2 linked regions of the Homo sapiens genome follow. The protein of the gene in region 1 purifies or fractionates together with the protein of each later gene. This does not show direct contact. Each region holds a gene or a part of one and is shown on either strand. Other genes may lie near its edges.

Evidence for each region.
Region 2: the proteins of SLC2A2 (region 1) and MOXD1 purify together in Homo sapiens (affinity purification with mass spectrometry; one large-scale study listed by BioGRID and IntAct). This does not show direct contact.

Annotation. Positions count from the first base shown.
Region 1 is NC_000003.12:171,020,221-171,023,720, reverse strand, and holds part of SLC2A2 (solute carrier family 2, facilitated glucose transporter member 2), read left to right. Parts: intron 1-3,500.
Region 2 is NC_000006.12:132,394,976-132,398,475, forward strand, and holds part of MOXD1 (DBH-like monooxygenase protein 1 precursor), read right to left. Parts: intron 1-3,500.

The DNA of each region.
Region 1 (3,500 bases):
ATAATAATTCCTACCTACTGGGTTGTTGAGAAAACAGGCAAACCATCTAGAACCTCAGAACTTGGACAGGTTAAGATCCTCTCTAATTTCTTGCTATTTTCAGTAGCACTTATGTACTTCTTCTTGTGTCAACTTCTTGGACATTAGAGTGGATGAATGAAGGTTGACGGGGCTTATTAAGACTTGGTCGTGTTCAGAAATTTCCCCTTAGAAACAAAACCTCCTTTGACCAAGTCTAGAGCCAAGCCACATACAAGGCTGACTATAAACATTACTTCTTTTCATTTCACAACATTGGAGAAAGAAAAGATGAAGGAGTGGGAGCCATTTTAACATGGAGTTCAGAGAGGGCAATTAAACCTGAAAATAAAAGATAAAGAAAAAGAAAGCAAAAGGAAATGCCATTAAACAGTTTCAGAGATTTTGATATTTGGGATAATCACTTTTGTTGGAAATTCTCAGAAATTCAAATGACCTGCTTAAAATGGATGAGATTGCTCCTTATCTGACCAACCTGGTAAAATTCTATCTTGAGGAGTTAAAATAAGGAACTGCAGGCCCTGGGGTGGCAGGACCACAGTCAACCCTCAAAAAGAAACCAGGAAGGCCAGAGGATAAGGACTTTAATAACACGCTAAGATTTCTAAATGTTTAAAAACTCTCCTATCTCCTTCATAGTTGCTATTTTTGTTATTCTAATAAAATGAGAAACTGATCTTAGAGGCAGCTCCAGAATTTCTATACTATAGAACAATTTGATTGGAAAGAAATAGGATGGGAGATCCAGCATCTTTAAAAATTAGCTTTCATTTTTGTCAAAGTAATGTGGGACTTTGTGACTTAGGCTGTGTATGTAAAGTGACAGGGGTGAACTAATGGAGACGACAGGGGAGTACATGTGCTGCAGCTATCGCTATCACCCCAACTTCAATTTCTGTGTCGCCCCTGCTCACCATTAGCATGGCTACTGATTGGACTCTTAAAATAAGGAGAAATAAATTATATGTTTGTATGGTAGAGGGACAGGGAGAGAACCCCCAGAGAACAGAAATCCAGGGATGAAGCAGGAGGTGACAGTCACTAATAAACCAAGTGCCACAGAAGAAAAGAAAATGCAGGGATGAGACTGGGAAAGTATATTGTGGTCTTGGGCTTGGTGGTGGGAAGACCCTGAGGTTCCTCTTCAGCTCAGCTACCGATGAGCAATTGAGTAGGCTTTGCCTTTTTGGACTTTTGTCCAGAGACCTCACCAAAAGTTTCTACTGGTAAGTGGGGGAAAAGGGATTTGTGTGGTAGGTGGTGGGAAAATGTGGTTGAGATTTCTGTGTGTTTGAAGCCAAACAGCTAAACACCCACAAGTGGTAAATTCTGTGGATATGTATGCTCTTAGCTTTTTTAATTTATAAAGATTATGGTCCTAGATTTTTCAGATGTGCTTCGCTTTTGAATGTCTGTATCTGACTAATGAGGGATGCAAAATAACCAAGAAGTTAAAAGCGTAAGATCTGGAACCAAGTCATTGTTCTTTAATTTACTAACTGTGAGATGTTAAACTAATCTAGTTATCTATAAAATGGGGACATTAATGGTGCTGCCATGAAGAATGTGGTAGACAGAATAATCGTCCTCCAAAGAAGTCCACAGCTGCATTGCCAGAACCTGGGAATATCTTGCCTTATGTGGCAAAAGACTTTACAGATGAGATTAAGGTAATAGACCTAGAGATGAGATTTTCCTGGATTACCCTGATGGGTCAAATCTAATCCTATGAATTCTCAAAAGGGAAGAACTTTCCCAGCTACTTGTCAGTGCCAGAGAGATGTAACATGAGAAGGACCTGACCTGCCCATTACTGGCTATAAAGAGGAAAGAAAGATACCAGTAGCCAAGGAAATTTGGTGGCATCTAGAGCTGGGAATGGCCCTTAATTTATAACCAGGGCAAAACGACAGACTTTAGACCTATAACCAAGAGGAACTGAATTCCATCATCAACCCAAATTTTCTCCAACAGCCTCCAGAAAGGAACACAGCCTACCAACAACCTGATTTTAGTCCAGTGATACTTATACCAGACTTCCCATCTATAGATGTTGTTGTAGAGATGGGGATCTCGCTATGCTGCCCAGGCTGGTCATGAACTCTTGGCCTCAATTAATCCTCCAGCCTCAGCCTCCCAAACGCTGGGACTATAGGCATGAGCTGCCATGCTTGGCTATACTTTAAGATAAATAAATTTGTGTTGTTTAAGCTGCTGCACTGGTGGTAATTTGTTACGGCAGCAATAGAAAACTAATTTAAGAAGTAAATGAGATAATCCACATAGTGAACAGGCATGCAGTAAGCATAAGTAGTATTAGGCTTTGAATCTGTTTGTGTTGCATCTCACATGAGATTGTCCTGGTTTCAGTGATGGAGAGTATGAGGGAAGTGGGTTAAAGCCCTCCCAGGGTACTCCTTATCCCATCACTTCTGACAATGGCTACCACCTGTAAAAAGGATGAAAATCCCTATCCTTGGAAATAGCTTGAGGGGAAAAAGGATTTGAGGAGAAACCACCAACTAAGTAAATAAAATTCCATCTTAGATTTGGCTATCTAAGCCACTGAGTTTTAGATGTCGAGTTACATTTTAGATTTTAAATTCAAAATCTTTCATACTCACATAGACCATATATCATATAGTGTGTGTATGCATTTTATGTATAATATATATAATTCACGTGTAATAAACATAAAATGTTAATATATCTTATATGTAAGATATAAATGATATATATAAGTGATAAATATCAGATGTAAATGATATATAAATATATAAAATAAATATATATATTTTGAGACAGGGTCTTGCTTTGTCACCCAGGCTGGAGTATGGTGGTGCAATCATAGCTCACTGCAGCAGCAACCTCCTGGGCTCAAGCAATCCTCCCACCTCAGCCTCCTGAGTAGCTGGGACTACAGGCATACACCACCATGCCCTGCTAATCTTTGTATTTTTTTGTAGAGACAAGGTCTTGCTATGCTACCCAGGCTGGTCTCGAACTCTTAGGCTCAAGCCATCTGCCCACCTCAGTCCCTCAAAGTGGTGGGATTACAGGTGTGAGCCACTATGCCTGGCCAATTTATATCTAATAAACATATTATGCAATATTATATATCACATATATATTATTCTTTTGGGCAATATATATGTATCATATAACCATGTCTTTTGGGTCAACTTTGAAGTCCTTTCTTTCAGAGAAAGAAGTGTTAGGAGGGAAAGTCTGACAGATACCCCCTATATTAGTGAAAGGGGTGGAAGCTTTGTAAACCTACAGATTCCCTATCCCCACCCCAGAGATTCTAATCCAGTAGAAGATCTGGGGCTGTCTCCAAGAAGCTACATGTGTAACAGGCTCTCCAAGTAGGGTCTGGTTTTAGAACCACTGGACTAAATAATTTCAAGGGCTCCCAGGATGGTTCTGTGACAATACTTTGTGAAATTTCTGATCTCTAG
Region 2 (3,500 bases), on another chromosome or scaffold:
AATTCAAAAAGTTCTTCTGCTCAGCACATTATAGTCAAAATATCAGAGGTGAAAGACACAGAGAAAACTCAAAAAAGCAAGAGAAAAGCATCAAGTCACTTATAAAGGTACGTCTGTCAGACTAGACTAACAGCAGAAACCTTATAGACTAGGAAAGAATGGGCTGATATATTCAAGATGCTGAAAGGAAAAAAAACTGCCAACCAAGGATACCATACCCAGAAAAGTTATTCTTTATAAAATGAAAGAGAAATGAAGTCTTTCCCAGACAAGCAAAAGCTGAGGGAATTTATCACCACTAGACCAGATCTATAAGAAATGCCAAGGGAGTCCTACACCCAAAAGTGAAAGAACAATATCTAATATCATTAAAACACATGAAATATAAAAACTACTAGAGCAAACATACAAAGAAGGAAAAGACTAGAAGGTTACCACTACAGAAAAACCACAAAACCACAATAATAAAAAATAAGAGAGTAAGAAAGGAACAGAGGATACACAAAACAACTAGAAATCAGTTAATAAAATAAGAAGAATAAGCTCTCACATATCAATAATAACCCGGAATGTAAACAAATTAAAACTTTCACTTAAAAATACAGACTGGCTGAATGGGTTAAAAAACATGACCTGACTATACACTGCTTACCATACTCATCTCACCTGTAAAGCCATATACTAACTGAAATTAAAGGATGGGAAAAGAACTTCCATGCAAACAAAAATCAAAAGTGAGCATGAGTGGCTATGCTTATATCAGGTGAAACATACCTTAAGTATAAAACACTAAAAAGTGACAAAGAATGTCATTATGTAATAATAAAGGGATCAACTCAGCAAGAGCTGCATATATATTTAGAAATACAACAATTCTAAATACATATGCACTCAACACCAAAACACCCAGATCTATAAAGCAATTATTATTAGATCTAAAGGGAGTGATAGACTCCAACACAGTAATAGGAACGTTAATAGCCCACTCTCAGCATTAGACAGGTCATCTAAACAGAAAATTAACAAAGAAACATTGGATTTAAATTACACATTAGACTAAATGGACCTAACAGACATTTACAGAACATTTCATCCAACAGCTACAGAATATACATTCCTCTCATCAGCACATGAAACATTCCTTAGGACAGCCCATATGTGAGGACACAAAACAAGTCTCAACAAATTTTAAAAAATCGAAATCATATCAAGTATCTTCTCAGACCACAATGAAATAAAACTGGAAACCAATAACAAGAGGAACTTTGGAAACTGCACAAATACATGAAAATTAAACAACATACTCCTGAATGACCAATGGGTCAAGAAAGAAATTAAAGAGGAAAAAAAAATTCTGAAATAAAATGGAAACATAACATATCAAAACCTATAGGGTACAGTAAAAGCAGTGCTAACAGGAAAGTTTATAGCAACAAACACCTACATCAAAAAGTAGAAAGATTTCAAATAAATGATCTAATAATTCACCTAAAAAAAACTAGAAGAACAAGAAAAACCACACCCAAAATTAGTAGGAGAAAAGAAATAATAAAGATCAGAGCAACACTAAACAAAACAGAGACAAAAAAAATACAAAGGATCAATAAAAGGAAGTTAGTTTTTTGAAAAGATTAACAAACTTGATAAACAACTTGCTAGAATAACCAAGAAAAAAAGAGAATACCCACATAAAATCAAAAATGAAAAAATAGACAAGTATAACTGATATCAAAGAAATGCAACAGATTATCAGGGACTATTATGAACAACAATACACTCACAAACTAGAAAACCTAGAGGAAATAGATAAATTCCTTGACTCATACAACCTACCAAGACTGAATCAAGAAGAACTAAAAAACCTGAATAGACCAACAATCAGTAATGAGATTGAATCAGTAATAAAAAGTCTCCCCCAACATAGAAAGTCCAAGACTTGGGGCTTCACTGCTGAATTCCCATGTGACTGTCTTCTTACGTGATGTTCAGATAGAGTCTACATTCCCTCTTGAATCTAGTGGGCTTGTGACCACAGTGAAAGACTAAGTCATAAAAGGCTGTACAGTTGCCACCTGGCCTCTTGGTTCCCTCTTGGGACCTGCCACCATGCTGTGACAAAGTCAAGCAGCCACACAGAGAGGCTATGATCCTACCACAGCACCAGGCAAGGTCCCTGCCAAGAGCCAACATCAACTGCCAGCCATAACTTCAAGGAAACAAGGCTTCATATTCTTCCAACCACCCACTTTGGAGTTGTCCCCACCAAATTTCAGACTTGTGAGCAAAAGAAATTTGTCATTGCGTTAAGCTACTCTGTATGGAGATGGTTTGTTACCAAGAATAGACAGCCAGAACAATGGGCAAAGCCCCCAATACTGGACCCATTTCCTGGCATAGAATAGAACTGGCCTAAAAAGAAATGGGACTTGCTTCTCTGCCTTTCATGAATTTTCATTATTTGGGTTGATTCTTTATTAACATTAGACTTTCTCTCTGAGTCCCAGATTAGGCTGTCTATAAGATATATCCCAGCTGAAATTGTGTGTGAGTGTGTGTGAATGCACACTATATGATGGTTGAATTGTTGCCAGTATTTAGTAATTAGATTTTTATTTAAACACACACACACACACTCACAGAGAGAGAGAGAGAGAGAGAGACAGAAAGAAAGAAAGAAAGAAAGAAAGAAAGAAAGAAAGAAAGAAAGAAAGAAAGAAAGAAAGAAAAAGAAAGAGTAAAGAGAATCTAAATTTTGTCTTCTCTCAAAATAAAAGAACAAACAGAAGATCTGGCAATACTGAATTTACATTCCTTTTTAACAGTAATTCACTCACAAAACCCCCAGTTCCCTCAGTGCCATCTCCTCTCTGTTGCATTACATCCTGCCTGTTCCATTCAAGCTCTCATCACTCTTTTTTCTCATTTTTTAATTTATATAAATGTATGCGTTACAAGTGCAGATTCTTTACACACAGAGATTGCATAGTGGTGAAGTCAGGGCTTTTAGTGTATCCATAACCCAAATAACATACATTGTAACAAATAAGTAATTTCTATTCCTCCACACCTTCCCACTCCTTCACCCTTTTGAGTCTCTATTGTCTATCATTCCACACTCCACATCCTTGTGTACACATTATTTATCTCCCACTTATAAGTGAGAACATGCAGTATTTATCTTTCTGCATCTAGCTTGTTTCACTTAAGTTAATGGCCTCCAGTCACTCTTAGATTTATTTCCTGACATCTATAGACATTTGGACTTGTGACATCTATTAAGCCAATGATTCTCTACCTGATCGATAAAAATTTACACTTACATAGTTCTCAAGGAGTTAACACCCTTTTGAAAGAAGAGTTTAATATAATTAGGAAAATAAAAGTCAGAAAAATTTTTAAAAACTAAAGTTTTAGTTTAAAATTAAATTTAAAAGGATAAAATAAAATACATGCCAAAAAGCCACATGATGAGGTGACTAGGATAGCAACTTAGGTTATTA